4 linked regions of the Homo sapiens genome follow. The protein of the gene in region 3 purifies or fractionates together with the protein of the main gene of each other region. This does not show direct contact. Each region holds a gene or a part of one and is shown on either strand. Other genes may lie near its edges. The genes, in order: UBN2, SUPT16H, TEAD2 and HOXB13.

Region 1 (7,449 bases), on a different chromosome or scaffold from region 3:
GATTATTAATAAATGCCTGGCAGAATATATGTCTTCCTATTCAGAGAGTCATTCAGATTCAAAGAGTCTTAACTGAGCCCCTGCTAGGCACAAGGTATTGTGTTAGGTGCTTTCATTTAGATTAGTGAATTTATATCCAATTCTAGGACAGTATGATCTTTCAGAACGGCTGGGGTAATGGAGTGAGAAAAAAATCACTAAGAGAAATCTTCCAACAATTATAGGTTATCCTATGTCCTAGAAGGCTAAGATAACAAGTCTATACCCATCAAATTGAAGCATCCTACTCCTGAGTATAGAGTATAGGTGGCCTCATAAAAGGCATATATTACCTACAGACTATCTAAAAACTGAATTGGAAACCAAGATGTTTTGCCTAAACATTTTGGAGCCTTAACTGGGAATAAAGAGAGGCATGGGAGCCTCTTTTACCTGTATCCTGCCTCCTTTCTAACCATCAAGACGAATCTGGAGCCTATACGGTTGTAGAAATGTCAAAACTTGGACTTAGCTATTTAAAAAGATTTATGTACAACAACCAATTTAGTATAATCTAGGTAAAAATAGGTACTTAATAGTCATATTGACCTTTTCCCAAAAAACCATTTAGTAATTGATGCTGAATATGAACTGTCACATTACCTGAGCATAAGAACAACATAACAGGAAACAGAACATGGCCATAAAAATAGGACACAATGGAGGGGGGAACCCCATAAATTCAATGCAGGGTGCTCTTTTTACAATTTTATACTCCCTGTAATTTCTGATATCACTGATCTTCAACTGCTGCAACACCTGCCCCAAACACCAATAAAGATCATTGTAGTTTAAGAGAGAGATTTTGTGATAGCCTAGAGCTCTAGGCATATAACGCCCAGCAGGACAATGTATCTTCTCTCAGGTCACTTTTGGCCTGATGATTTTCTTAAAAGATTCCAAATAATTATTTAAAAAAAAAAATATATATATATATATATATATATATTTAGGCTGGGTACAGTGGCTCATATCTGTAAACTCAGCACTTTGGGAGGCTGAGGCAGGTGGATTGCTTAGGCTCATGAGTTTAAGACCAGCCTAGGCAACACAACAAGACCCTGTCTCTACCAAATAAATATATATATACATATACACACACACACAATACTCATAGATATAACACTTGGGCATGCTTTTTGGTTAATATACATACAATCTCTAATTAGAATGGAAATAAGACAGTAAGTCAGCAAAATAAAAATCCAGAGAAGAAATATAGCCCATTAATTTAGACTATAACAAGAGTAATATTTTATCACTGTAAACAAAATAACAAGGCTTAAATATATCTAAGTCAATTGAAACTCAATTTCACGCATCAAACAACTTCTTCAGAACGCTGATCTTTCTATGCCAGATACTATCCTAGGGTTGACTAAGAAGACTTAATGCTAACTTTAAGGTAGTGCGTCATATACTGAATCACTTTACTTATAGGATTATATATAGGAATTTTTCCATTTGCAAAGGGCAATTCTAAAATCCTTGATTTTGTAACCCACAGCAAAATAGACACTCTAGGCTGGGCGCAGTGGCTCACGCCTGTAATCCCAACATTTTGGGAGGCCAAGGCGGTGGATTACCTAAGATCAGGAGTTCGAGACCAGCCTGACCAACATGGTGAAACCCTATCTCTACTAAATACAAAAAATTAGCTGGGCATGGTGGTGCATGCCTGCAGTCCCAGCTACTTGGGAGGTTGAGGCAGGAGAACTGCTGGAACCTGGGAAGTGGAGGTTGCAGTGAGCCGAGATAGCGCCATTGCACTCCAGCCTGGGCAACAAGAGTGAAACTCTGCCTCAAAAAAAAAAAAAAAAAAAAAAAGACACTCTAATATAGTGATGGAGGGAGTAGAACTGGTAATTTAGTAATATATACTAAAATTATAAATGCATAAATCTTCCGACCTGAATCGTCTGATTCTAGGAATCTCTCCTAGAGATAAACTTGAAATTGTGTAAAATGCCATTTTACAGACTAATTTACTGCAGCACTATTAATAAGGGCAAATTTTTGAAAGCAACCTAAATCATTTGGGGACTGGTTACAGTGTGATAGTTCCATGCAATGAAACAGCATGCAGCCTTAAAAAAAAGGGAGAGAAAGCACTTTGTCCTGATATGACCCCCCCAAATATACTAAGATACAGTAAATAAAAAGCAAAGAGCTTAAGTGTGTACAATTCTATAATATGTATAAAAAGGGGGTGGGAAAGGAATAGATGTGTATGTATAGAGATGTATCTCTAGTACCACAGGAGTGTTACTTGCCTAGGAAGTGGGATTCCATGGGTGGGCAATACAATAAAAGGAAGATTTTTAATTTTTGAATTTTGAGCCACATAAGTGTACTAGTTGGTTAAAACATTAAGTGTAACCAATGTATAACTTGTATAAAAAACACAGTATTTTAGGATTTATACATGCTAGGATTTTAGGATTTATACATCCTATAGGATTTTACAATTTATACATCATGATACAATATAGTCTCAAAAGATTACACTGTAATTAAATACTACAATGCTATTCCTTCTATTTAAACACCCACCAGTCTATCCCTAAATTTATTATTATATAGTCACAGAATAGAGAACAATAGGGTCTCGGAAAAATCTGAACCTCTCAATTTATAGATAGGAAAACTGTACCCTTGGCCAGGCCCAATGGCTCACGCCTGTAATCCCAGCTCTTTGGGAGGCCAAGGTGGACAGATCAGTTGAGGTCAGGAGTTCGAGACCAGCCGGGCCAACATGGTGAAACCATCTCTACTAAAAATACAAAAATTAGCCAGGCATGGTGGTGCATGCCTGTAATCCCAGCTACTCAGGTGGCTGAGGCAGAAGAATTGCTTGAACCCAGGAGGTGGAGGTTACAGTGAGCCAAGATCACACCACTGCACTCCAGCCTGAGTGACAGAGACTCTGTCTTAGAAAAAAAGAGAGAAAAAGAAAACTGTGGCCCAAAGCTAAAAAACCTCACCAAAAGGACACAATTAGCAGATGGCAAAGTATGGCCTAGGACCTGATTCCAATTCCAATCTATTCTCATCTACTTCTTCTACCTTCAAATGGTTTCTTAATTACCACAAGGAGCCAGCACATATGGGTCAAGATCCCTGTTGTATCTTGAGGGTACAAGGCCCTCAATGACAAGGCCAATGTGAGCTGATATCCTTTCTCCTGTGGGATACTTTTCAATGCTCACAGAGGAATCAGAGGGGTAAGGTGTTGCTTCTCAACTGGGTTATGTTTTAGTAAAGTGCCAAGAGTACTCAAAGCCATAGTGTAAATGTGGGGTGAGGAGTGGGGCTTTCTACAAATTTAGTAATACTAGAAAATTTGAGAAAAATGTTAAGCAACTTAATCAGGTAATTAAAAATTGTTTTTGTATTCAAACAAACACCACTATATTGTGGCACTGAATATAAAATGTACATGAATATTTAGCATAAACCGGACACTTTCAAAGAAGTCTCATGCTGGTTCTGAGTCTGACGCAATGAGCTTAGAAGTACACACATTCACTCTCAAACTCTTAGGAGGCAGGAAGGTTTCAGAACTACTATACCAAAGGAATTAAAATAGCATTCTCGATGGTGGCGGAAAGGGAACAGAGTTAGAGCTACACAGACCTGGACCTGTAGCCTACTCTTGCCACTGTGTGACACTGTATCAGCTACTTAATCTTGAACTCAGAGCCTCAGTTTCCTCATCTGTAAAATATGGTCAATATTACTTAGCTTGTGGTTTTGTTACAAAGATTGGAGATAATATATGTAAAGCAAACCGCCCAGACTCTAGAAAGACTATAATAAATGATGGCTACTTGGCAGGATGGATCACTTGAGGTCAGGAGTTCACGACCAGCCTGGCCAACATGGTGAAACCCCGTCTCTACCAAAAATACAAAAAATTAGCTGGGTGTGGTGTTGCCCCTGTAGTCACAGCTACTTGGGAGGCTGAGGCATGAGAAAGGCTTGAACCTGGGAGGCGGAGGTTGCAGTGAGCCAACACTGCACCACGGCACTCCAACCTGGGCACCAGAGCGAGACCCTGTTTCCAAAATAAATAAATAAAAATAAAAATGAATGATGGCTACTTTAACTATCACAAGCCTGTTGGAATCTTTATTTGACTGTCTAACCATTCATTTGGTTTCCATTGGTGAGAACAAAGTAAGGCAGGCAACGGATATTTATAGGCCCTCCCAACCAGCCACAGAAAGCAAACAGGTCAATAGGATAAAATTACCTAAGTGATCAGTTTATTATACTCACATATTTCATTTCAAACTTCTTAGCCAACATTTCCACCTCTTGCCTCTCCTGATGTTCATCATTAAATGGGTCTTCTGTGTGAATGAGCTTCTTCTGATTCAAGGTGAATGGGAAAAGAAAGAGAAGTATCCATTAGTATTACAAATATTATTATTGTTTGTTTATTTATCATTATGTAACAACCACTTCAATTCTATTTCAATAAATGTGATCTGAAAGGAAATAAACTAGTGAGAATATATAACATGTTATATAATTAATTATATTATTACTCAGAGACTATATCTTAAATTTAACCAATACGAGACAACTTTTCCTAATACTAACAAGTAAGTCAGAAGTATTAAAACTAAAAAAAAAAAAGTTGGTTCATAGCAAAAAAAATTTACAGTTATAATGGACTCATATACATTTCACAGTGTTTTGATGAGTAAGAACTCAACAATCCAAATTGTCTTCACCTGCAAAATGATCACATGGTCACCTCATCCAAAATAACAAAGAAAAAAAATCCCCAGGAACACTAGCTAAATATGAAAATCTCACTTATAATTCTAGATTGATATCTTCACTAACAAAGATTAACTGCTTTGATCAGGAAATGCTTCTAAAAGGAGCTCTAGATTATTAATTAAAAGCAACACTTCAACCATCTGCCTGTGAGTTAACACTGAGTGTGTGTAGCGGCTAAGGCTTTCTGTTGAGGTCCAATATCAACAACCATTGTATCACCAATATTCTGTCAATGGATATCCATTCAGGGAATACACATTACTTTTAAACAAAGCTAGAAAAGAGAAATAGCTGCAAAAAGATTACATTACCATGCCTTTCTTCTAGTAGGGGAGAGTGAAAGTTTATTATAATACATGGTTTAACACACACACACACACAGAGCTAGAAGCTCACATTAACCATCTATTTAACAAAACAAACAAAAATAGCGATCACATCCTTAAGTCTTCTATTTTAGTATACAAACATATATATGGTTTTCAATGCACAAAAAAACCAAAACAAGGATAAAAATACTACTTTTATCCAATTTCAGACAACTGACTCAGGTAATTTAAAAAGGAAGGTATACTACAACTGAAATATTGATACAGATTCAATGGACCCTGAAGAGCAAGAAAAAATGCAGAAGGAAGATGTGCACACTTTGAAACTGAGACACTTCATCCTGGATATAAAGACTGAGACATGATCGGTCTAAAAAACATGATAGAAAAATGTGGACAGAATGAATACGAGACAATTCCTCACACTTGGGACATTAGAATAAAGGGATACTTCTTTAAAGGAGTTAACTTTAAAATCAATTTTTAAAATTATTGTAATAAGTAATAAATTTATAGAATAGTTCACCCCAACAGAAGCTACCAATGAAAGGCCAGGCGCAGTGGCTCACACCTGTAATCCCAGCACTTTGGGAGGCCAAGGTGGGTGGATCACCTGAGGTCAAGAGTTCAAGACCAGGCTAGCCAACATGGTGAAACCCCGTCTCTACCAAAAATACAAAAACTAGCTGGGTGTGGTGGCACACGCCTGTAGTCCCAGCTACTCGGGAGGCTGAGACAGGAGAATCGCTTGAACCTGGGAGGTGGAAGTTGCAAGTGAGCTGAGATGCTGAGATTGCGCCACTGCACTCCAACCTGGTTGAGACAGAGTGAGACTTCATCTCAAAAAAATAAATAAATAAAATAAAAATAAAAATTTACCAATGAAAAACATAAACATGATCCAAAAGGGAATAAACTAGTGAGAATAAACTAATAAGGAATCCTAGGCATGTCCAGGGTGTAGCCTTAACCAGAGGCTCAGGTTAAGGACAGTAAGCAATCGCCATGCCTATTACAAACTGCTCCCTCTTGCACTGTGAAGCCCAAATACTTACTATGGTATGACTCATTTTATATGTATAAATATAAACACATGGATCTATATTTTTAATAAGAATCACCTTATATGCCATTCTAAAATATTTTATGTATTTTATGTAGGTATCAAAAGTACAGCTCTTATTTTCTCTTGACAGCCTACAAAAACAAATTTAAGAAAATGGACTCACTTTTCTTTCACAGTTAAGAATAAACACCCTCCCCCAATCAAGATTAAGCTTTTTTGTTTTTTCAGGTGAAAAAAAATCTGAAAATTATCAACTACCCACATGCAAAACTGATGCAATAATTTTGTCCTTTGATCTTAACTCATCAACACCATTTTCAGGAGGTCTTTCACAAATTTCATCAAAAATACGCAAACAATGAAATACCATGGAATTCTCAAATAGTATAGTTACATTAACACACTTAATCACTTATTTTTCTTTTTACAGTAAATGTTCAATTAAGCATGTTCACAAATGGGTGTTCTGGTTAACTGATTTTTCTGGTTTACTAAGAGTTAAACCTTTTCTTGTGTATCAATCATTGCCAAAATTTATTTCTAAAATGCACTATTACCCTTTAGCCAGAAATGGTGACCAAATTAATCTTTCAGGATAGAGATGATTCCAATGCCAGTCATCATCCTAAACCATCTCAATCACAGCACTGTACTGCCTAGAGACAATAAGGTTAAAGGTTTAGCTAACCTGTGGTTTTGTTTTTCCTATTTTCCCAACATAAATTATTTAATTGTGCTTTCCTCATTAATACAAATAGAGCATAGAAAAATTTCTGATTATGTTCCAGTAAATCAGGGTTTTACTGTTCATTTAGTATTTAAGAAGGGAACTGATTTAAATGCACCCACATGAATGGTATCCATATGTAACACACCTTTTGTTGTTTGTTTTTTTTTAATAGCCCCACATCTACCAATTTCAGCATCTGGAGCTAAAATCTTATTTAGTGATAGATGGCTATTTCAAAAATGTGGAGCCCTTCCTTTTCTAATTCTTCTAATTTTGGGAACCACCAACTTTCCAGACCAATTCTAATGTTCGCATTTTGCTTTTTGATGGTCTCTCTTCTAGGATTTCCTTTCATGAAACCATGACAATTTTACTTAAACATATGTTTTCTATGCTTTCTTGCATAATAAGGATATACACTGGCAGCAATCACAGGAAAATGTGGCAAATCTTTGTTGCAAAGGTGATTATATACAATGGATTTTGTTTTG
Region 2 (7,449 bases), on a different chromosome or scaffold from region 3:
GACCACTGTCCTCCTAGATCAGTGATTCTCAAATAGTATGATTAAGAATGGGATCGGGGCCGGGTATGGTGGCTCAAGCCTGTGATCCCGGCACTCTGGGAGGCCAAGGTAGGCGGATCATGAGGTCAGGACCATCCTGGCTAACACGGCGAAACCCCATCTACTAAAAATACAAAAAAATTAGCCGGGCGTGGTGGCAGGCACCTGTAGTCTCAGCTACTCGGGAAGCTGACGCAGGAGAAAGGCGTGAATCCGGGAGGTGGAGCTTGCAGTGAAGTAGGATCACGCCACTGCACTCCAGCCTGGGCAACAGAGTGAGACTCCATCCAAAAAAAAAAGAATGGGGCCAGGTGGAGTGATTTACACCTATAATTCCTGCACTTTGGGAAGCCAAGGTGGGAGGATTGCTTGAGTCCAGTTTGAGACCAGCCTGGGCAACATGGCAGACCATGTCTCTACAAAAAATAAAAAATTAGCTGGGCATAGTGGTGTGTGCCTATAGTCCCAGTTACTTGGGAGGCTGAGGTGGGAGGATCATTGAGTCTGGGAGGTCAGGGCTGCAGTGATCCGTAATCATGCTACTGCACTCCAGCCTGAGTGACAGAGTGAGACCTTGTCTCAAAAAAAAAAAGTGAGTGGACTGTTTAGTTCACACTTTGAGAAACACTGCTTTAGGGGACATAAATTTTGATTTTAAAATGTTACTGAGTTTTTTTCCTAAAAGATACTTTAATATCTCCTTTGTGTCTTGTTATTAGGTGTGAAGATATGTGACGTGTATAACGCTGTCATGGACGTGGTTAAAAAGCAGAAGCCAGAACTGCTGAACAAAATTACCAAAAACCTAGGGTATGCCATGATGTCTATTGTCATTCTTGAGTCAGTTTTCAGTTAGACTGTCAGTGGTCAGTCTTATTTCTTTAGGCTAATTGATTGATTCAGCCAACATTTATGGACTAGCAAACTATACTATGTGCCAGGCACATGATGTTATCAGAGAAGGTGAGACAGATTTAAGTTCTCCCAAGTGTATAAGAGAGATTTTTCTAGACCAGTGTGGTGTTCCAGCCCATAGGTTTTCCAGGATATAATTACAGATGTTAGGAAATATTATCAATACATACTATATCTCCTCTCTCCGTGCACATTTGCAACTTAAGTACTCTGAGATGTCCTAATATTTTATTTAGAGACAGGGTCTCACTCTGTCCAGGCTGGAGTGCAGTGGTGCAGTCGTGCCTCACTGCAGTCTAGACCTTCTGGGCTCCAGCAATCCTCCCATCTCAGCTCCCCCAATAACTGGGACCAAGGCACGTGCCACCACACCCAGCTCATTTTTTTATTTTTTGTAGAAACAGGGTCTCGCTATGTTGCCCAGGCTGGTCTTGACCTCGTGGGCTCAAGCAGTCCTCCCACCTTGATCTCCCAAAGTGCTGGGATTACAGATGTGAGCCACTGTGCCTGGCCGTTTGTTTGTTTTGGGGGTTTTTTTTTGTTTTGGTTTTGGTTTTGGTTTTGGTTTTGGTTTGTTTATTCAATCCAGTGTATTTCTCAAATGTATTTTATACATTTCTCAAATGTATTTTATCACTGAACACCTAGAAATACCTAATAACGTGTAATGGAACAAAGGACATTTTGGGAAACAAAGCTTTATGTAGGCATTCTCTTTAGATGAAAACTAGTCTATGGTATATAGTTTCTAGACTTCTCTCATGGAAATATATACCTATATAACAAGTCTTACGAATCTGGTTTACCAGTGTTCCACTAAAAATTGCCCCTTTTAATCTAGTAATTACTGTCTTAGTAATGTACCCCTTAATAATCTCTATGTTGTTTCTAGGAGTACTACTGACTTGATTTTATGGTAGAAGGTTAAAGTTTAAATGTGGGCAAATAAGCTAAAATTAAAAAGGCTCGATATAATCAATTAGGAAATTATTTTTCGCCATGGGATTATACAGCATGTTTAGAGGCCAAAGACTGTCTTTGAATCCTCTTTTCTAACTGAGCGGTCAGCAGGGGTAAATCATTTCAAACATGTTTGCCTGTCTTATTGTGAAAGTTGAAATGAATATGTTATGCTTGATCCATGTTAGAGATCTTTAGCCTTTTGCTGATGTTTATCTGTTTCTTTTCAGGTTTGGGATGGGAATTGAATTCCGTGAAGGCTCCCTAGTAATCAATAGCAAAAATCAATACAAACTGAAGAAAGGTAAGTTTCACATACAATAGGAAAATGCTTTTGTGAGTTACTTCCTTTAGCTTTATTTTCTTTTAGGCATATGTCTCACACCTCTCCACATTGTCACAGCCACAGACTGATCCTTGTTTTGCTGTTTTAGGAATGGTTTTCAGCATCAATTTAGGATTCTCAGACCTGACTAACAAGGAGGGGAAAAAGCCAGAAGAGAAAACCTATGCCCTGTTCATTGGTGACACAGTGCTTGTGGATGAGGTGTGTATTGTGTCTAAACTTTGGAGTCTTCATGAACTAACTTCTGAGGCACGTTTGTGGACCCTGTGGTTTTTTTCTTGCTTTGTTAAATGCTAGCTAAGGGGAAGAATCCGTGTGACAGCCTAACCTAATGCAGCTAGGAATAGAGACTGTAGCCCAGGTATAGGGAATGATATAAACCTTTAAATCATATTGTCATATTGTGGCTTGAACCTTGATAATGATAATATCAGGAACTAATACTAATAATGAAACCGGTTATTCTTTTTTCTTTTTAATAACAGCTTTATTGAGCTACAATTCACATACTATACAATTCACCCACCTGATATGTACAATTTAGTGATTTTTAGTATTTTCACATTTGTGTAACCATCACTACAATCTAATTTGAAAATATTTTCATCACCTCAGGAAAGAACCCTGAACCTATTAGCAGTCACTCCCCATCCCCCTTCCCTTCCCCCACTGGTTCTTCAGGCCTAGGCAATGACTAAACTGCGTTCTCTCTAAGGATTTGCTAAATATCTGAGCAGTTGATGTAAATTCAGTCATACCCTATGTGGTCTTTTGTGACTGGCTTCTTTCCCTCAGCGAACTGATTTTTAATAATAGTGAGCACAGATAGTTCAGTGTTTTTATCATAAGCTAAGCAGTTTACATTAATTCATTGAAATAGTACCTTGTGAAGTAGATACTCTTATTACCTCCATTTACAGATAAATTGAAGGCACAGACAAGTTTAAGTAACTTGCCAAATGTCACTGAGGTAGAAAGCAACTGAGCCAGGCTTCAAATCAAACCTGTATTAGTGATTACCCAATGTTGCCTCCCAAATTGTAGCTCTTGGCTGGGCGCAGTGGCTCACGCGTGTAATCCTAGCACTTTCGGAGGCCAAGGCAGGTGGATCACCTGAGGTCAGGAGTTTGAGACCAGCCTGACCAACATGGTGAATCCCCGGCCCTACTAAAAATACAAAAATTAGCCAGGTGTGGTGGTGCGCGTCTGTAATTCCAGCTACTCGGGAGGCTGAGGCAGGAGAATCACTTGAATCCGGGAGGCGGAGGTTGCAGTGAGCTGAGGTCACGCCATTGCACTCCAGCCTCGTTGACAAGAGTGAAACTCTGTCTCAAAAAAAAGAAAAAGAAAAAAAATTGTAGCTCCTGACGAGAGGTTAGAGGTTAGAAGGATAAAAACTATATTTATTCATTGTCAAACATTTTAGTGTCCAAAAGATTCAAAGCATTGCCCAGCCGTTTACTAGGTTAGAAAATGAAATTGCCTCTTTTAAATAATGTGTCTTCATTCTCCTTTTAATTCTAGGATGGCCCAGCTACTGTTCTCACTTCTGTGAAGAAGAAAGTGAAGAATGTGGGGATTTTCCTAAAGGTAGGAAGAAGATAGATAAGTAGTATAGGAAGTTTAGGATATAAAGAAGTTAAATAATATTGGCTAAAATAATTAAAATTTCATTTTTTGATTATGACTTTTTCCATAGAATGAAGATGAGGAAGAAGAGGAGGAGGAGAAAGATGAGGCAGAGGACCTTTTGGGAAGAGGTTCTCGGGCAGCATTACTTACAGAAAGAACAAGAGTAAGTTTACTATTTTAAATTACATTGATCTCGGCTGTCATATGGCTCACGTGTTGTGATAAATTGGATTTTCCATTCACCAGAATGAAATGACTGCAGAAGAGAAGCGAAGAGCACATCAGAAAGAACTAGCGGCTCAACTCAATGAAGAAGCAAAGAGGCGATTGACTGAACAAAAGGGAGAACAGCAGATTCAGAAGTAAGAGTTTTCACTGAGCAGTGAGATCATCTGAGGGTTCTGTGGGACTGCAGAAATTTCTCAGTTGTTTTTTTATCCCACTCCAGAGCTCGCAAGTCTAATGTGTCCTATAAAAACCCATCTCTGATGCCTAAGGAACCACATATTCGGGAAATGAAGATCTACATCGATAAGAAATATGAGACTGTAATAATGCCCGTGTTTGGCATTGCAACACCGTTTCACATTGCCACAATCAAGGTACTGACATTCAGTGCATCAGGTTTCATCCAAACTGTTGCTTAAAATAGTAATTGTATTTGCCATAAATAATCTGCATTCATCATGTCTCCCACTTTTGACTCCTTCAGACTCTGTTCAGTTACTGACATCCCTCTTGTCTTGTCATTCTCCTTCCTCTTTCAGTTTTTTTCACTTAGTAGAAAGCTAAACTAGTCTAGAAACATAATTTGCCTATCTTTCTTTCAACTTCGTTTAATCATTGTTTAACTTTTAGTTGTATTCATGGTACAAGGTACTTTGAGAATTCAGAGATTTTTTTGGGAAAAGGATACTTCGTTATTAAAAAGATAAATTATGTAAATTTATTAGATTTAGATTAAGGTTAAGAGCGGTCAATTTGTAACTCCTAACTTAATTTTAACATCTCTGTAACTACTAATCTCTAGGAAAGAAATCTGTTTACTTTTTATGCTTTTCCTTTGAACAGAATATAAGTATGTCCGTGGAAGGAGATTATACTTACTTGCGAATCAACTTTTATTGCCCAGGCAGTGCTCTGGGCAGGAATGAAGGCAACATCTTTCCTAACCCTGAAGCGACTTTTGTCAAGGAAATGTGAGTCCCCAAGAAAAGTCATACCCAGATTCATCTTGTCTGGAGTGGTACTCTCAGAAACATTTCATTGTCTGTGCTACATTTTCCCTACCTAGTAAATGTCAAAGCCTTCCTCATTGGTACTTGTTTCGGATCGCCTTCTTGACTTTGTACTATTTTCAGGATGGATCCCAATTTAGAATCTTCTTGAAGATACTATATATTTACTAAACATATTTTGAGCCTGGGTAATATAGTGAGACCTTGTCTCTTCTAAAAAATAATTAACCAGGGGTGGTGGTGTGCACCCGTCATCCAGCTACTGTGGAGGCTGAGGTGAGAGGATTCCTTGAGCCTGGGAGGTTGAGGCTGCAGTGAGCCCTGATCTTGCCTGTACTCCATCCAGCCTGAGCAACAGAACGAGACCTTGTCTCAAAAAAAAAATAATTATGAAAATAAGTGTTAAAAGTAATAAACATATATTGCAGTAGAATCTTCAAATAAGAAAACTGGTGCCACATTGGATTCTATGATTTCATGGTGTGAAATGGGATAATTTGGGGATGTTATACCAGATTTGAAAAATGAAAAAAGAAGGAATGGGCATGCATGGTGGCTCACGCCTGTAATCCCAGCACTTCGGGAGGCAGAGGCAGGCAGATTACATGAGGCCAGGAGTTCAAGACCAGCCTGGTCAACATGGCAAAACCCTGTATCTGCTAAAAATACAAAAACTAGCCGGGCATGGTGGTGTGTACCTGTAATCCCAGGTACTTGGAAGGCTGAGGTGGGAGGATGGCTTGAACCCAGGAGGCGAAGGTTGCAGTGAGCTAAGATTGGGCCACTGCACTCCAGCCTGGGTGACAGAGGCACACCCTGTCTCAAAAAAAAAAAAAAAAAAAAAAAGCAAAGTAGAGATTAAGCTGCTTAGAAGATAAAGTAAATCAGTACAATTTCCCTGGCCTGAAAAAGAAATGTCTATAAATGCTGTTGCTTTTCTGCAGTACATACCGAGCATCAAATATTAAGGCACCCGGAGAACAGACAGTACCAGCCTTGAACCTTCAGAATGCTTTCCGAATTATTAAAGAAGTACAGAAACGTTATAAAACTCGAGAAGCTGAAGAGAAAGAGAAGGAGGTGAGCCTGAACACAGGCAAAACATTCTTACACAAAGAAGGACATGTATTTTTTGGAGACTTGTAAGGATATGTGACAATTCACATTAATTTTCTTCTTGCTTAGGGGATTGTAAAACAAGACTCACTGGTGATCAATCTAAACCGGAGTAATCCGAAACTGAAAGATCTATACATTCGCCCAAATATTGCCCAAAAGAGGATGCAAGGCTCACTGGAGGCCCATGTCAATGGTATGGATGATCTCTCCTGTACCTAGGCTTTCTCTTCAGGGCACATTTGTTAGGAATGACAGATCAGATAATAAAATATGACAAAGAGCCATCCGCCGGTTAGCTCAGTTGGTTAAAGCATGGTGCTAATAAAGTATGACAAGGAAATGCTGGGAGGAATCTACTTACACTGCTGTGTGGCCAGAAGGAAAGGAAAGCTCTATACAGCTGTTGGTGTTTCCTCTGACCCTGTGCAAATCAGCCAGAAGAGTTGCAGTGCCTTTTGGCCTAACTTAATTATACTGCTTGACATTTCTTCATTCTTTTCCCCAGGCTTCCGCTTCACATCTGTTCGAGGAGACAAAGTGGATATTTTGTACAATAATATTAAGCATGCTTTGTTCCAGCCCTGTGATGGAGAAATGATTATTGTCTTGCACTTTCACCTCAAGGTATACCTTTCTACTTAACTAGCTGTCAGCTCTTGGGCAAGACACTTCATTTCACTCAGCTTCTTTCCTATAAAATAGTGATGAAAGGGCTGGGCGCGGTGGCTCATGCCCACAATCCCAGCACTTTGGGAGGCCGAGGTGGGTGGATCACCTGAGGTCGGGAGTTCGACACCAGCCTGACCAACATGATGAAACCCCGTCTCTACTAAAAATACAAAAATTAGCCAGGCGTAGTGGCCAGCGCCTGTAATCCCAGCTACTTGAGAGGCCGAGGCAGGAAAATTGCTTGAACCTGGGAGGCGGAAGTTGCAGTGAGCCGAGATCGCGCCATTGTACTCCAGCCTGGGCGACAGCGTGTGAAAAACAAAAAACAAAAAAGTGATGAAAAAATCACCTCTCACTTAAGAACATTTAAGAGGATTAAATAAAATAATGCCTCTAAAGGCCACAAGGCCTGGCATCTAGAAGGGGCTCATAAGCATGTTTGTTCCTTTGGTGTGTTATATGGTGGCCAGCAAATGTTTTATACGAGATCTCCAGATTTCTCTTTCTAAAATGAAGTTTTGCTTTAGATAA
Region 3 (7,882 bases):
AGCTAGACTCCATTTCAAAAAATAAACAAATACATAAATAACCCAGCCTCGGGTAATTCTTTATAGCAATACAAACGGACTAACACACATGCCGAGAAGACAGATGAACGCACAGGAAGCAGCTTCTTCCTTGAACCTGAACCTGCCCATGCGAGGATGACCCTAAGAAGACCGGCCCATCCCAGACAGAAGCCCACAAGTCCATTCCGAGACCTGTTTTCGAGTTCGGGTCTTCCCCGTTCTCAGCTTGATGTAGCGGGCGATCAGTTCATTCCGACCTGAAGATTCAAAGACGGAACAGAGTTAGTTAGACTTTCAACAGAACTTCCCCACAGCATGGACACCAGGGAAGAAGAAAGCAGCATGGGTCCCCAAAGGTCTGCAGCAAGTGGGCTGCCGGTCCCCTCAGCTACGTGGAAGCCAGACTGCTTGGGTTCAAATCCCAGCTCCATCACGCACTGGCTCTGTGCGACCATAAGCAAATCACTTAACCTAGCTGTGCCTCAGTTTCCTCATCTGTGCAAATGGTGATGCTAGCTCCTACTTCAGAGTGCTCCATAAACCTTGGTTACTGTCATTATTCATCAGTGGGGGCCAGGGCAAAAGACAGAAGTAGACTCACCATACATCTTGCCTTCATCAGACAAAATTATTTTCCGGCGGCCGCAGGGTGGATAGATGGCCAGGGCCTCCTGGAAGCTCTGCTCAATGTCTGGGCTCCACACCCCCTCTGCATCCGGGCCCCCGTCACCCCCAGCCCCCTCACTGCCGCCGGTACCCTCCTCACTGCCTTCCTCACTGCCCGTCCAGCCGCTGCCATCGTCCAGGGCGGCCCCAGCCCGGGGTTCCCCCATCTGGGCCTGGAGGAACACAGAACTCAGCAAGCTTCCCCCAAACCCCACCCTCAAGGGACTTGAAGCTGAGAGGGCTGGGACTCTGGACCACTGGGTCTGAGGGAGGAGGGGCTGGGGACCTGGACTCCTGGGTCTGAGGGAAGAGGAGCTGGGGGGTATTCCTGGGTCTGAGGGAGGAGGATCTGGGGCCTGAACTCCTGAGTCTGAGGGAGGAGGGGCTGGGGCCCGGACTCCTAGGACTGAGGGAGGAGGATCTGGGGCCTGGACTCCTGGGTCTGAGGGAGCGGGGGCTGGAGGCCTGGACTCCTGGGTGTGAGGGAGAAGGGGCTGGGGTCTGGACTCCTGAGTCTGAGGGAGGAGAAGGAGCTGGATTTCTTGGAAAGCTGAGGATGGGAGTGTTCTCAGAGTTTCCAGAGGAACTCAATTGTGATGAAGTCACAATGATTACCCTAGAGTAATGCCGAGGGCCATGAAGGCTAAAGGTTCGGGTATGAATTACGGGTTTTAAAGAAGACAGGAGGCAAAAGTTAGTGGTGGGGAAGGAAGGTGTGGGTGAAACTTCCCCTGTCCCACCCCAAGAACAGGTGGTAAGATGTGAGCAGCAGCTGCCAGAAAAGAAGAGGGGCCAAGCAAGACTGAGGGGAGGTCTAGAGAGAGGGGGACAGAGACCCAGAGAGGGAGGGGGACAGAGACCCAGAGAGGGGATGGGGACAGAGACCAGCAAGGGGGGGGGACAGAGACCCAGAGAGAGAAGGGGACAGAGACCAGAGAGAGAGGGGGACAGAGACCAGTGAGGTGGGGATAGAGACCCAGAGACAGAGGGGGACAGAGACCAGAGAGAGAAGGGGACAGAGACCCAGTGAAGGGGGGGACAGAGACCAGTGACGGAGGGGACAGAGACCCAGAGAGAGAGGGGGACAGAGACCAGAGGGAGGGGGGGACAGAGACCAGAGGGAGGGGGGGACAGAGACCAGAGAGGGGGACAGAGACCCAGAGAGAGGGACAGAGACCCAAAAAGAGAGGGAGACAGAGACCCAGGGAGAGGGGGAGACAGAGACCAGAAAGAGGGGGACAGAGACCGGGGGGGGGGGACAGGGACCAGAGAGAGGGGTCCAGAGGCCCAGAGAGGGAGACAGAGACCCAGAGAGAGAGGGTGACAGAGACCCAGAGAGAGGGGGACAGAGACCCAGAGAGAGAGGGACAGAGACCCAGAGAGAGAGGGGACCAGAGACCCAGAGAGAGGGGGACACAGACTCAGAGAGAGGGGGACAGAGGCTCAGAGAGAGGGCAACAGAGACCCAGAGAAAGGGAGACGGAGACCTAGAAAGGGCAGGGACAGAGACTCAGGGCAGCAGCTGAGGCCGAGACCAGGAGAGACCCACAGAACCACAAGCTGGGGGACAGGGGCGCCCTGCCATCAGAAGAGCCAGAACAAAGGGCCCAGGCGTCCCCTCCCCCAGCTTCCCACAACCCCCATCAGGGGAGGGGCTTGCCGGCCAGGGCGACTCCCCTCCGGCACCGGGCCCCGCCCCTCCCCTCCCCCGTGCGCCGTGGGCTCTGATCCAACTCAAGTTCCCAGTGACTTTCCGGAGGCCGGGAACAGGGAAAACTTTTTCCAATACAGTCAGATCCCGCCTCCCCGGAGGCTCCATGTCCTCCACAGCTTTCCCAGGACCCCAGAGTCCAGGCCCCTATTCCCCTCCTCCCGCCGACCATAGCAGACAAAGACCCCAGCCAAGCCCAGTGGCGCTGCGGCGTTCAGGACCCCCGTAGGCCAAAATCCCAGCCCAGCCCTTCCCCATGTGGCCAGACAAAGGGACGGTGGAGCCGGGTAAGAAAGGTCCCCCTAATTTCCCGCCCCAGACCCTAAACCTCCAAAGAGGCAAGACTTAAGATCCAGAAAGCCCCGTAACCTCCCCTCGGCCACCCCAGAGGCCCTCCCTTCTCCGTAAGAAGGACCAAATGCCCCCCAGATTACACAAGGGGTCCTTCTCACTCCAAAGTGACACCGCCGCAGACGCACGCCCCACACCCCGCCAGCGCCCTTGGCCCGCACCCGCTCCTGCGCGCACGCCCAAACTCAGACCCAGCCGCAGGCACCCTAACTCCGGCCAGAGTTCCCACTCCTCACTGAGGCTCGGTCACGGGAGCAAATTCGGGCCCCCGGGCAAAAAGAGGGCTGCGAACCATTCAGAGACGGTCCCGCAAACGCACGCCTCACCTCCTAAGAAGCAACTCCCCACCCCAACTCACACACCCCAAAGCAGGATCCCCGACTCCCGCCGGCGCCTTCCTACCTCCCGGCCTGGGGCTGGGGAGCCGCGGGCGGGCGGGGCGCTGCGAGGGAGAAAGTTGCCGGGAGCTTTGTTTGGGAAAAGTGGGAGGGACCGGAGGGGGGGGCGGGCCCGGCCGGCGGACAGCGGGAAGGGGGATCCGACGGTGACAGTTTGGGGAAGGATTTTTGCTTTGGGAGAGATTAGTCTATCTCGGGGCTGGTAGGAACTCAGGATTTGGGTGCTTGGGAAAGGAGGGGGATTGGGGGTTCGGACTCCAAGTCGGAGGGAAAAGGCTGATAGGAGCCAGAAACCCCTGATCTGAGGGAGGAGAGGCTGGGGGCTGGGACTCCTGGGTCTGGGGGCTGGGACTCCTGGGTCTGGGAGAGGAAGCGGCTGGAGAGAGATATGGGCTCCTAGGTCTGAGAGGGGACGGGGCTAGGCGCCTGGAATCCCGGCTACCCTCGTGTTTGTGTATTGGGGGTGCGGAAGTGATACGAATACAAAGAGTCTTTACTGTTAAGCCCTGAGGTTTTTTTTCTTTTTTTCTGTTTGGTTTTTGGTTTTTTTGTTTTTTGTTTTTTTTGTTTTTTTTTTTTTTTGAGGATTGGGGTCTGGGGATGGGTTTTGACTGATTCCTATGACGACCTGGTTTCCTTGTGACCTCACCACAGTTAAGAGTCGTGGGCAGGACCACCGGGAGTTTATTGGAGGCCCACGTAGGTGCAGATTCCTCATCTACAGGCGCTAGTGGACTGGAGACGGCTGGCGGCTGTCCCGGGACGGGGAAGAGAGCTTTGGTGCCTGAGGGAAGATGGCTTAGGGCCCGGTCCCTTAAGGGTGAAAGGCTGCGTGTTCAAAATTACGGGACTAGAGGGGGCGGGAGTCCGGACCTGAGGTCCTCAGGGAAAAGGAAGTCTGATTCTGGGTTCCTTGGAAGATGAAATATAAGACTGGATTTAGGGTTTCCGGAGACAACGGGACTTTTTAGTGGAGCGGGAGCGGGAAAACCAGAAGGGACACGGAGAAAAGGTTCCGAAACAGATACACAATTAGAGTGAGAGCTAAAAGGGATGCTTGTACTCCGGTGTCTCCAGTAGGAGGAGCCTAGGACTGGAACTTGGGGTGATGAGGGCAAGATCTGGGACGCAGGGGCGTGGTCCAGTGCAGGGGCGTGGCCCAGTGCAGGGGCGTGGCTTTCAGCCAAGGGGCGTGGCCATTGCGATTGGGCGGGACTCCGAAACGAGGGCCGCAATCAGAGAACACCGCCAGGACTTCCAGGACTTGGTCTCCAGGACTGAGGTCAACTGACGTGGGCGTGGTCTGACTGTGTGGGCGTGGCCAGGGAATGAACTCACGGCTCTGGCTTAAGGGGTGTGGTGAACGAAGGATGGGGCGTGGCTGTGTCACCAAGGGCGTGGTCATGGAGTAGAGGCCCGGGCTCCTGGGTGAGGCCGGCAAGTTTGGAGCGTGGTCAGACAATAGGGGCGTGGCTACGGCTCGCGGAGCGCAACCAACGCTCTAGACCAGACCTGGGCTCGAGACCATAACTGTTTGGCTTTAACAGTACGTGGGCGGCCGGAATCCGGGAGTCCGGTGACCCGGGCTGTGGTCTAGCATAAAGGCGGAGCCCAGAAGAAGGGGCGGGGTATGGGAGAAGGTGAGGATTGAGATCTGGTGGTGAACGTGGGCGAAAGTGAGGAAAAGACCATTGGATGAGGCCGGGTGCTGTGGCTTACGCCTGCAATCCCAACACTTTGGGAGGCCCAGGTGGGCGGATCGCTTGAGATCAGGAGTTCGAGACCAGCCTGGGCAATATGTCGAAACCCTGTCTCTACAAAAAATACAAAAATTAGCCGGGCGTGGAGGCGCGCGCCTGTGGTCCCAGCTACTTCGGGGGGCTGAGGTGGGAGAATCACCTGAGCCCGGGGAGGTCGAGGCTGCAGTGAGCCGTGATTGTGCCACTGTACTCCAGCCTGGACTACAGAGTCTCGGTCTCAAAAAAAAAAAAAAAAAAGCATATGAGACAGAACCCAGAAGAGCCAGACCTGGGAGAAGACGGGGCCTGGCAAGGTGGAGGGTGTGGGAGTAGAAGAAAGAAGCAGTGGGGGAAATGAGCGCGGTGTGGGAGTTGCCTGAACTGGGGAGGCGACCTGGGCAAGGTGCTGGAGAGGGGCGTCTTGGGTGGGGGCGTGGCCACTGTGCGGGGCTCTGACCCCGACCCTTGCCACAGCCTCCCCACCTGCCCCCGCAAGGCGGCATCTGCTGGTCCTGCTGCTGCTCCTCTCTACCCTGGTGATCCCCTCCGCTGCAGCTCCTATCCATGATGCTGACGCCCAAGAGAGCTCCTTGGGTCTCACAGGCCTCCAGAGCCTACTCCAAGGCTTCAGCCGACTTTTCCTGAAAGTAAGCGATGGCGGGGGGATGGGGGAAGAAGTACTGAGAAGAGGTTCAGGGACACAGAGTGGGAGATGGTTCAGGGCCAGGCAGGGGGACAGACAGGATGAGAGGGCAACAGGGAGACCAAGAGATAGGAAGAGGGAAGGGACTGGGCCCAGGCTATAATCACAGCACTTTGGGAGGCTGAGGCAGAAGGATCATTGGAGCCCAGTACTTGGAGACCAGCCTGGGTAACATAGTGAGACCCTCATCTGTACAAAAAAATATAAAAAATAGTTGCAGGTACATGCGCCTATAATCCCAGCTGCTTGGGAGGCTGAGGCAGAAGGATCCCTTGAGCCCAGGAGGTCGAGGCTGCAGTAAGCCATGATAGCACCACTGCACTCCAGCCTGGATGACAGAACAAGGAGACCCTGTCTCTAAACAAATAAATATATACGTGCATAAATAAGAGAGGAAAGGTAACAGGCAAAGAGAGAGGAGATGGGACAGAGACAAGAGACTGGGGAAAGAGACAGGAGGAGAGGGGGATGGGGACAGAAGAGGAACAGGGATAGTAAGGCAATGGGACTGAGAATAGAGAGAGAATTCATGGGGGATGGAGGCCGGAGGTTAGGCCCTAAGTATCAGAGGGCAGAAAGTAAAGGGGATGGGAGGGACTTGGGGCAAGGCCTCGGGAGCATCCTAGCAGGGCTGCAGAAGGGGCTGTACTGAGGAGATGTGAGGTCCAGCAGCTCACCAGTCCCTCCTCCGGCCCCAGGGTAACCTGCTTCGGGGCATAGACAGCTTATTCTCTGCCCCCATGGACTTCCGGGGCCTCCCTGGGAACTACCACAAAGAGGAGAACCAGGAGCACCAGCTGGGGAACAACACCCTCTCCAGCCACCTCCAGATCGACAAGGTGCCTATGCAGGGAAGCCCTTCCTGAAGTCCCCTTGGGATCCCTCCATCCCGCCATCCCTCGTGCTGCAGTATCTGTTGGGAGGGAAGGAGGGCGGAGGAGGAAAGCAGGTTTGCTCTCACTCTCTCATCGGATCCTCACAGATGACCGACAACAAGACAGGAGAGGTGCTGATCTCCGAGAATGTGGTGGCATCCATTCAACCAGCGGAGGGGAGCTTCGAGGGTGATTTGAAGGTTAGGACGTGCCCCGCCGTCAAAGTGTCCAGGCCCAAACATTTTCTTTTTTTCTTTTTTAAAGAAGAGTCTCACTCTGTCACCCAGGCTGGAGTGCAGTGGCACGATCTTGGCTCACTGCAACCTCCGCCTCCGAAGTTCAGGCAATTCTCCTGCCTCAAGCTCCTTGGTAGCTGGGATTACAGGCACCTGCCACCACGCCCGGCTAATTTTTTGTATTTTTTTAGTAGAGACAGGGTTTCTCCATGTTGGTCAGGCTGGTCTTGAACTCCTGACCTCAAGTGATCTGCCCATCTTGGCCTTCCAAAGTGCTGGGATTACAGGCATGAGCCACCATGCCTGGTGAGGCCCTAACATTTTCTGTAGTTTAGGAGGACAAGAAGAGGAACTGACCCTCTTACTCCTCTGTGTGGAACTTCCTCCTTCTGAGCCTCAGTTTTGCCATCTCTCAAGTGGGGCAATCCAACTGTCAGAAATGAGATTTTTGACCTCAGAATACATCTGCAAGGGTTTAGTAGACCCTAGAGGGTTTTGTATCAAAGTGGTTTTCTTTTTTTTTTTTAACTACATAATAGTCAATCAAAGTGTTTCTATGAGCACCAAAATGTTTTATAAACCAAGAAGGGTTTTTAATTCTAAGTGCTTGGAAAGCTTCACCCTCATAAACCCCAAATTGTGTTTTTGTCTCAAAGTAAGTGCTCTGCAAACTTCAGAGTATTTTTCAATCTATCCCAAAGTGGTTGGTAAACCTCTCCATTATAAACTCCAAAATGTTTTTGTTGTTATTGTGGTTTTGATTTTTGGGGTTTTTTTTGTTTGTTTTTTTGGTTTTTTTTTTTGAGAATGGAGTCTTGCTCTGTTATCCAGGCTGGAGTACAGTGGCACAATCTCAGCTCACTGCAACCTCCAACTCCCAGACTCAAATGATCCTCCCACCTCAGCCTCCGGAATAGCTGGAACTACAGGCGCGGACCACCACACCCAGCTAATTTTTCTATTTTTAGTAGAGACGGGGTTTCGCCATGTTTCCCAGGCTGGTCTCGAACTCCTGAGCTCAGGCAATCCGCCCGCCTCTGCCTCCCAAAGTACTAGGATTATAGACATGAGCCACCACACCTGGCCCAAAATGTGATTTTCTTCTTCTTTTTTTGTTTTTTTTGAGATGGAGTTTCGCTCTGTTGCCCAGGCTAGAGTGCAATGGCACAATCTCAGCTCACT
Region 4 (8,304 bases), on a different chromosome or scaffold from region 3:
TACAGGACATCAGAGAATGAACACAGAGGCAGAGGCCCTCATGTCCCTCTCAGAGTCCCGGCTCTGCAAAGAGCCCGTCTGTCTCCAGCTTCCAGAATTCCGCACTGTGAATCTGTCTACGTGGACTGGGAAAACAGGGTTGGCACCACTCTGCCACTCCGTTTGTGCCTGGGAAGGGCTAAGTATGCAAGGCTACAAACATCTACTTCACTGGGATCCCAAATGCTCAACAAACCATGACCTGCTTTGGTCAGAACCACCAGAAATATTAAGGGAAGACTCAGAGAGTTTGGGGGAGGAAATTAATGGTGAATTACCCAGGCACTTTCTCAAATCTCTTTTTCTCTGGAAGGAAGGACTGACTAGGGGCAGCCTGCTGGCTTCATTTTCACACGACAGAAAAATCATCGTATTAAGGATGGGTGCTTCCAAGACCAGTGGGTACACCCTATGGGGTGGACAAGGAGGGAGGAAGAGACAGCCTCTACAATTGTCCACCTACCCAGCTGTCAGCTGAGAAAAATGCTAAACGGACATCACAGCCACACAACGAATCTGCCCGTTCCCCTCTCCTCAGTCTTCCTGCTGTTACCAGGGTGAGAGGTGTAATGGAAGGGGGTCTGAGAGAAAGCTTCCCTGCAAAGGGATCGCCTTCCAAATTTATTCATAATTAGCTCAATTCATGAAAGCGGTTTCTAAAGTGCTCTACAGAGCTCTAGATAGAAAATATGAGGCTAACGATCATGGCAGCTAGTACTGGTTATCGTGATTATTGCCACTGTCAGGATGAATGATTATGACTGGGCCAGGTTCTTTGGGAACCCTGGTGGAGTGGGCTGTCACATGGGGTTCCGTCTCCCTGCACATACTGGGTACCCAGGCCGCTCCTGAGGAACAGTCCAGCAGCCAGTGGCCTGGGAAGGGTGTTGTCTCTAGGGGCCTCTCAGCAGAGTCCTTGGCCCCAGCCTGGGCTTGGCAGGTTCCTGGTCTCCCCAGGACACCCCCACTTTCGCTCCTCCCACCCAGGCAAGGAGATCTCTTAAGGGGTAGCGCTGTTCTTCACCTTGGCGAGAACCTTCTTCTCTTTGACCCGGCGGTTCTGAAACCAGATGGTAATCTGGCGCTCCGAGAGGCTGGTGGCTGCCGAGATCTTGCGCCTCTTGTCCTTGGTGATGAACTTGTTAGCCGCATACTCCCGCTCCAGCTCCCGCAACTGCCCCTTGCTGTACGGAATGCGTTTCTTGCGGCCGCGACGAAAGGCGCAGGCGTCAGGAGGGTGCTGCCCGCTGGAGTCTGCGCGGCGTGAAAGGGAGGGAGGAAAAGGCATGGTCAGATACCCACCCATGCAGACCCAGGCCTTGCAAGCCCCAAGCTAAGTCATCTCACAGGTGCACACAGGTCACCCTACAGGCGCACGTGCAATCCTGTTCCTCCAAAGCATACCAGGACAGCACCCTGGCTTCCGGCTTGTTCTCTCACCACCGCTCAGCCTTGGCTCCTGAAGGCCACCCTCACCCATCACTGCTCTCACACCCGCGAATCTGCAAACATACCCACACACCACACACAGTCAGGCCTTTGCCCACCATCACATACGTCCAGTCTTCATGCATTTCCAGACTCTTGGCCACTCTTTTAGATTCTACAGGCAAATTCTGGAAACACGTTTCTGCCCCCACTCCCAATACATGCGCATACACACACACACACACACATTAACCCATCCCAGTGCACACACATATGTCACGGCTGCAGGAAACCTAAATTTTTCTTTGGAAATTGGAAAACTCATCTAATAGAAAGTGAGAGGTTGTATTCTCTACAGTACATCCAATACCTTTTTACCCATCTCCCACACCCACTCCCCACGCACCGAATTGAGAGTTATTTAGCTTTTGTGTAGAATTAGTTTGGAATTGTGCTGGGTAGGGACACCCTGATCCCCACTCAACAGCAAAGAGATCTAAACCTCTCAGACATGTTGAAAGGCTGGTCCCAGGGCCTCCTGGAGAAGTGAGGTGGCCTTCAGGCTTCAGATAGCACCCAGCTCAGGCCCCTCACACTGACCTCCATCCAGGCCCTCCAGCTACTCAGACCTCCTTCAGAGTCCTAATAACCAAGGGAGGAGCACCAAGCTCATCCTCACCAGCTCCAAGTCTCCCTCCTCCTCCTCCCAGGGAAATGCCATTGGGACCCACAACCCCAGGCTCAGAGACAAGGGGACCCAGGGTAATAGAGGTACCTGCAAATGCTGCCTTCCAAAAGGGACCTGGTGGGTTCTGTTCTCCCTGGCAACACATCTGGCTGTTCCAGCCACCAGCGAGAGCCCAAGACTGGTAACTGTCCACAGGCAACAGGGAGTCATGTCGCGGTTCTCCAGGAGCACCCAGAGTCTGCACCACAGACACGTCCAGGTAACTGGCCATAGGCTGGTAGGTTCCCGGATATCCCGGATAGAAGGCAAACTCAGTGGGGCGGCTGGGGTACTCTTCCCCGGCCGTGGGAGTCTCCGCGGGGTACGCGGCCAGGGTGGCTGCCTGGGCACAGGGTTTCAGCGAGCTCCGGGACACTCGGCAGGAGTAGTACCCGCCTCCAAAGTAACCATAAGGCACGGGAGCTGGGGACGTCCCCTGGGGCACCCCAGGGCATGGGTGGCATTGCTTTGGCGGCTCCGCCGAGCCTGGCAGATCCAAGGGGGCATAGTTGACAGCAGGCATCAGCGTAGGCGCCGCTGGGTGGCTGGTCAGAGGGGAGTGGGCGACCAGATTCCGCCCCCCTCCCGCTCCCAGCAAGCCTTCGATATCCTTGGCTCCATCCAAGGTGGCATAATTGCCGGGCTCCATGGAGCCGAGGGTCGGCTCATGAGGTGCGGGGGCGGGGAATCTAGGGGGCACCCAGCTCGCTCTCCCCACCCAGGCCGGGGGAATCCAAAGCGTTTTAAATCGCTCCCAGCTCGCAAGTCGCCTGCATTCGCTCAGCACGGCCGTCTTGACGCAAGAGACGCAGGGGCCCGGGCACGCGCGCTGATTGGCTGCGGCCTGGGGGAGAGAAGCTAATAAAATCCTAAAGGCAGAAACTGCGAAAATACTTTACCCCAGCTTATTCTCTCTCTCTCTCTCTCTCTTTCTCTCTCTCTCTCTCTCTCTCTCTCTCTCTGTCTCTGTCTCTCTCTCTCGCTCTCTCGCTCTTTCTCTCCTCTCTCTCTTCTCCCTCTCTCTCTTCTTTTCCCTCTCCACTCCTCTCTCTCTCATTCCACTTAAAAACAACAAGAGAGAAAAGGAAGGAGGTGTCCTTTCGCTGCTTTCCAGTTTGCAGAGTCTCATTTACACGTCCGGGGGGAGGGGAGGCGTGGTGGGCGGAGGAAGAGGGGACGAGGAGCCGGGCCCCACCTCCTTCTCCTCCTCTCCCTCCCTAGCTTTCTGTCTCCTGCGCTTTGACAGGTTTAACGAGAGAATAAAAAGCTCTCTCTATAAAGTGTCCATCTCCTGGGGGGGAAGGGGAGTCGGGGGTGGGGCTGGGAGGCCGCTCCCGGCCTCAGAGGAGAACCCGGGAATGCGCCTGTGTAAGAGGAGGCTGGGAAATGGGGGTTAATAGGTATTTCTGGCAGCCCCTGGCTTTGGGTCCTGGGTACTAGCACCCCAGTTCATTCCCGGTACCCTTCCTGTCCCAGATGTCCTGGAATGAGCTGCTCCGGGCCCCAGGGAGGTGCCCTGGACGCCCCTTACCCAGGGACTCGCTACTGCCCAGAATGCTCTGGAGGCCCTGATTCGGGTGAGGCTGAGGGAAGAGGCGGGAGACACGAACGTAGACGTAGAAGACATGCGATCTGGATGGAACCCAGGACACTCCACTTCCGGACCTGAAGGGGAAATGGAGCCTCTAGAGTGGCCTGTGGAAGGGTCTGGATTTCCCTTTAAGTAAAGACATACGGAGGGACGGAGACCCACAGGACTTGAGGGAGGGACGGGGAGAGGGAGAGATGAGACTCAGGGACAGCAACACAAAGAGGGAAAGAGAGAAGCTGACAGAGCGGATGGGACAAAATCTTGTAAAATCCTGAAGTGTCAGTCAGAAAAGAGAAAGAAGAGAGGCACTTTCCCCCTTTTTTGGGATCTAAAGAAGTCTGAGGAAGCCAAGCCTGGCTGACTGCCAGAAACCAGCTGCGGGAGTTCTGGACCCCAAGAATACAGACGCCTGTGTGGAGATGCCAGTCTCCCTGCCCTGCAGTCCTCTCCCTATGGTCTGCAAGGGGCCCAGGAAACTGTCCCTGATACTGGCATACTCCCACACAAGCTGAGTACCCAGAAAGCCCAAGACCCCTATCTGCCTCCTGCAAGCTTTAAACTTCCTTACAAGGAAAAGGGAATGGAAGGGGAAACCCCAGCCACTGGCAGAATTGCTTGAGGCCCCTCTGTTGGGGCCTAATGTGCAGTGCAATTCAGAAGAATCAAACGGTTTGTTTCACAAATCTGTCTTTAGAGGTTTTCCGCTTCCTTTACTACCCCTCCCAAATCAAATCCTTCTGTCTGCTTTTTCTAGAACTCCCAGTTTTTCTGGAGAAGACAGGAATGTTTCCATTCTACACGAGGGTCTTGACAATTATATGGAATGGCTTACCCTAAACTCTGGGCAGACTCAATCATAGCCTCTCACCAACCTGACCTTGAACTTGAGCCACTTTGTGGGAAAGGGCCCACAGGCAGTAGTGTACATCACTCCTAATGAGCATTGCTATAATTGAAGACACCAAGCACGAAATCTTCACTAGATCGCATTTGAAAACAATATGGAAGAAAAGGGAGGAGATGTCTCTTCAGTGCTTTCCAGTTTCTCACCAGAGTTTCTTGCTTGTCTAATTATGAACTGCAGAAATATCCAGACTTTTACCTAAAGACTAAGAATTTTTCACCAATTTTTACTTGGTAGATGATAGATATGTAGGGCATGTCCACAGTTTTAGTTTCCACTAGGCAAACACCCACACATGCACATTTATTCATCCTTGTACAGTAGAGGCATTAATAGATCCCTAAATTTAAAAAATAATAATAGTCATAGTCATGCCCTATGACCCAGCAATTCCATTCCTGGGCATAAACCCAACAGAAATGAACCTTTATATCCATCAAAAGTCATGTACTAGTAGGTCCACAGCAGCTTTATCTGTAGTTGCTCAAAGCCACCCATGGCAGCGCACGCCTGTAATCCTAGCTACTAATCCTAGTGGAGGTGGGAAGATCGCTTGAGCCCCGGTGTTCAAGACTAGCCTGGGGCCAGGCACAGTGGCTCAGGTCTGTAATCCCAGCACTTTGGGAGGCCAAGGCAGGTGGATCACTTGAGGTCAGGAGTTCGAGACCAGACTGGCTAACATGGTGAAACTCTCTCTATACTAAAACTACAAAAAAAAAAAAAAAAAAAGCCAATTGTGGTGGTGGACACCTATAACCCCAGCTACTCAGGAGGCTGAGGCAGGAGAATCGCTTGAATTTGGAAGGCAGAGTTTGCAGTGAGCCGAGATCGTGCCACTGCACTCCAGCCTGGGTGACAGAGCAAGACTCCATCTCAAAAAAAAAAAAAAAAAAAAAAAAAAAAAAAAAAACCAGCCTGGGCAACAGGGGTAATAGGGATAATAGGGATACCCCATCTCATAATGAAATCAAAATATAGTAGCTCAAAACTAGAAACAACCCAAAAGTCTATCAGCAGTAGCATGAATAAAGAAAGCACAGTATAATTATACAATGAAGTACTACACAGCCATTTGAAAAAGAATAAACCACTACTACACACAACATTGATGAATCACAGATATGTGGATGAAAGAAGCCAGACACAAAAGAGTAACTTTTGTATGATTCAGTTTCTACATTTCTATGCAGTTCAATGACAAGCAAAATTATGGTATAGTGATAGAGGTCAGAATAGAGATTGGCATGGGGAGAGGTCTCCTGACTGGAAAAGGACATAAAGAAGCCTTCTGGGGTGCTGGAAATAGTCTCCATCTCAATCTGTCTGCTAGTTACAAGACTTTGTTCACTGTGAAAATTCATCAAGCTATACACTTGGTATTTCTGCACTTTATTGCATATCAGCTATATCTCAAATGTTAAGGAAAATAATTAAAAACAAAAATTTTTTTAATTCATTGCAACACTTCCTGAAACTGTGCTTTTGGATGTATAGCATTCTTATCCATGTTCATTGAAATAAGTAGCCAAGTGCATGTAACTGCAGTGTTGTGGAATGCAGAGATGGTTAACTTAAACTTGGCGGGAGTGAAGGTCACCAGCTGTGCTGGAGACCCTCCTGTAAATGGATACATTTCAATACAAATAAATTCTATAGTGCTTGTTTTATTTGCTTTACAATTTATTTAGCATCTGCTAGATCCCAGGGAACAGTTCTGGATCTCATTTTTCTTTCATTTCATTTCATTTATTTTGAGACAGAGTCTCACTCTGTCACCCAGGCTGGAGTGCAATTGTACAATCTCAGCTCACTGCAACCTCCGCCTCCCAGGTTCAAGTGATTCTCATGCCTCAGCCTCCTGAGTAGCTGGGATTACAGGTGTGTGCCACTATGGCCCAGCTAATTTTCTATATTTTTAGTAGAGACAGGGTTTTGCTGTGTTGGTCAGACTGGTTTCGAACTCCTGGCCTCAAGTGATCCCCCTGTCTTGGCCTCCCAATGCGCTGGGATTACAGGCATGAGCCACCACACCCAGCTTTGGATCTCATATTTATTAACACTTGGGTATGTGCCCCTATTTCCTGTACATAGGTATGTGTGTGCATCTGCCCATGACCTATCATAGATCTCAACCGGCATCAGGTAAAGTAAGATTAAGTCTCCTTATCTGTAAAATATGGATAATAATTCTTTCCTCACATACTGTGATGATATAATGAGATTTTGCACATAAAAGCATTTCACAATCTGAATAAATATGAGCTCTATTTGTATTCCTCCATGTGTTTCTGTTTCTAATGAATTACAAGCAACCTGCTTTTACCTGAAAAGGACAGTTGCCCTAAAGAGTGTCAGTCACTTCTCACTTGCCCCCTCAGCCCTGCGTAAGCTACATAGTTCTCGCATCGGGAAACTGAGGCTCAGAGCCTCCAAGTCCTCCCTGGGGCTCTACATGGGTTCAGCGGGGAAGTCCCTGCACAACCCAGGCGTCCTGATCTTCCAGACTGACTGGGCTGAGCCTGGCCTTCCCCTAACCCCACAGATGCCTTTGTGTCCTGCTGGGAGCCTCCTGGCAGACCCTCCGGGAGCCCGGAGCCTCCCCCAGCTTTCTTTACTGACCCAGCCAAAAGCGCTGAAAGCCTCAGCGTGCTCCTTTACATACCCGCCAGACACCTCCAGGAAGGTAAAGGCCAAGTTGAAAGTTAAGAGTCTGTTTACCTCCAGGAGCCCATTCAGCTCGGCCCCACAGACAGCCTGTGACCTTTACAGCCCGGCCTTTGAGCGCGGCCGCCGCGCCCCCGGGGGTTCCGGCAACGGGGACTTGGCACCTCGGTGTCAGCTCCCGCCCCCACCCAGGCTAGGGACCCGCCAACGAGGGGTGGGGGCGGGAGGCGCCCACCCGTCGCACTAGTGGGCATTTGCTAAACTACGTTTTATTTTTTTGTAAAGTGAGCGCCCGCTGCCTTCGTTCTCCCAACTGGAGCAAACTCTGTGGCGGCGACGATGGCGGCCGTCAGGTCGGTGGTGATGAATAGAGAGGATTTCTCTGCAGCGCGACGCTCCCCTCTCCCGAAAGGTTGGCTCCACGGTCCCGCCGGCCGCGCAGGTCTGGCTGAACTGCTTGGGGTCGCCCGGCTCCTCTCGATTTTATGAAAATGGCCTAATTGAGGTGTGCTCTTTTCTTTCCTTCCTCTTTTCATCTTTTCCTTCCGTCTGCATTTTCTCTCCTCTGTCTTAGGCTTGGTATCTTCTTTTCTTTTTATATTTGTGTTTTTCTCACCGCCTTTGCTTCCTTCCATTTCAGTTATCTTGCTTTTTGTGTGTTCTTTCTTGATTTCTTTCTTTCCTTTTCTTGTTATTGCTCACTCTCTGGCTCCGCCACCCACCCCTTGCTCTATCTTCATTTTCCCTTTAGTACTTTTCTCCCTATCTTTCATCTCACTTACACTATTTTTCTCTTTGTTTGCTTTTTCTTCCTCATTTTTCCTTCTTCAGTTTTCTCATTTTTCCTTCCTCCTTCCTTTTTTTTCCTCTCTCTTCTCTATTTCTTTTTTCTTTCTCTCATCTCCGTTTTACTTCCCTTCCTCCGCCCGCCACACACGTTTTTCCTTTGCA

The links.
Region 1: the proteins of TEAD2 (region 3) and UBN2 purify together in Homo sapiens (affinity purification with mass spectrometry; 2 studies listed by BioGRID and IntAct, with this or other methods). This does not show direct contact.
Region 2: the proteins of TEAD2 (region 3) and SUPT16H purify together in Homo sapiens (affinity purification with mass spectrometry; 2 studies listed by BioGRID and IntAct, with this or other methods). This does not show direct contact.
Region 4: the proteins of TEAD2 (region 3) and HOXB13 purify together in Homo sapiens (affinity purification with mass spectrometry; 2 studies listed by BioGRID and IntAct, with this or other methods). This does not show direct contact.

What each region holds. Positions count from the first base shown.
Region 1 is NC_000007.14:139,233,969-139,241,417, reverse strand, and holds part of UBN2 (ubinuclein-2), read right to left. Parts: intron 4,414-7,449; coding exon 4,321-4,413; intron 1-4,320.
Region 2 is NC_000014.9:21,359,839-21,367,287, reverse strand, and holds part of SUPT16H (FACT complex subunit SPT16), read left to right. Parts: intron 1-758; coding exon 759-849; intron 850-2,144; coding exon 2,145-2,218; intron 2,219-2,348; coding exon 2,349-2,461; intron 2,462-3,784; coding exon 3,785-3,850; intron 3,851-3,959; coding exon 3,960-4,055; intron 4,056-4,138; coding exon 4,139-4,254; intron 4,255-4,340; coding exon 4,341-4,494; intron 4,495-4,963; coding exon 4,964-5,091; intron 5,092-6,074; coding exon 6,075-6,210; intron 6,211-6,315; coding exon 6,316-6,442; intron 6,443-6,754; coding exon 6,755-6,873; intron 6,874-7,449. UniProt on the Homo sapiens protein: Component of the FACT complex, a general chromatin factor that acts to reorganize nucleosomes. The FACT complex is involved in multiple processes that require DNA as a template such as mRNA elongation, DNA replication and DNA repair.
Region 3 is NC_000019.10:49,359,222-49,367,103, forward strand, and holds the start of TEAD2 (transcriptional enhancer factor TEF-4), read right to left. Parts: upstream 3,196-7,882; 5' UTR 3,112-3,195; exon of another isoform or gene 3,076-3,111; intron 2,686-3,075; coding exon of another isoform or gene 2,655-2,685; exon of another isoform or gene 2,569-2,654; intron 2,297-2,568; exon of another isoform or gene 1,343-2,296; coding exon of another isoform or gene 1,312-1,342; exon of another isoform or gene 861-1,311; 5' UTR 855-860; coding exon 623-854; intron 279-622; coding exon 214-278; intron 1-213. Other genes in the region: DKKL1 (dickkopf-like protein 1), read left to right, coding at 4,843-4,897, 5,361-5,533, 6,288-6,428, 6,572-6,664. UniProt on the Homo sapiens protein: Transcription factor which plays a key role in the Hippo signaling pathway, a pathway involved in organ size control and tumor suppression by restricting proliferation and promoting apoptosis.
Region 4 is NC_000017.11:48,725,751-48,734,054, forward strand, and holds the start of HOXB13 (homeobox protein Hox-B13), read right to left. Parts: upstream 3,001-8,304; 5' UTR 2,844-3,000; coding exon 2,243-2,843; intron 1,294-2,242; coding exon 1,040-1,293; 3' UTR 1-1,039. UniProt on the Homo sapiens protein: Sequence-specific transcription factor which is part of a developmental regulatory system that provides cells with specific positional identities on the anterior-posterior axis. Binds preferentially to methylated DNA.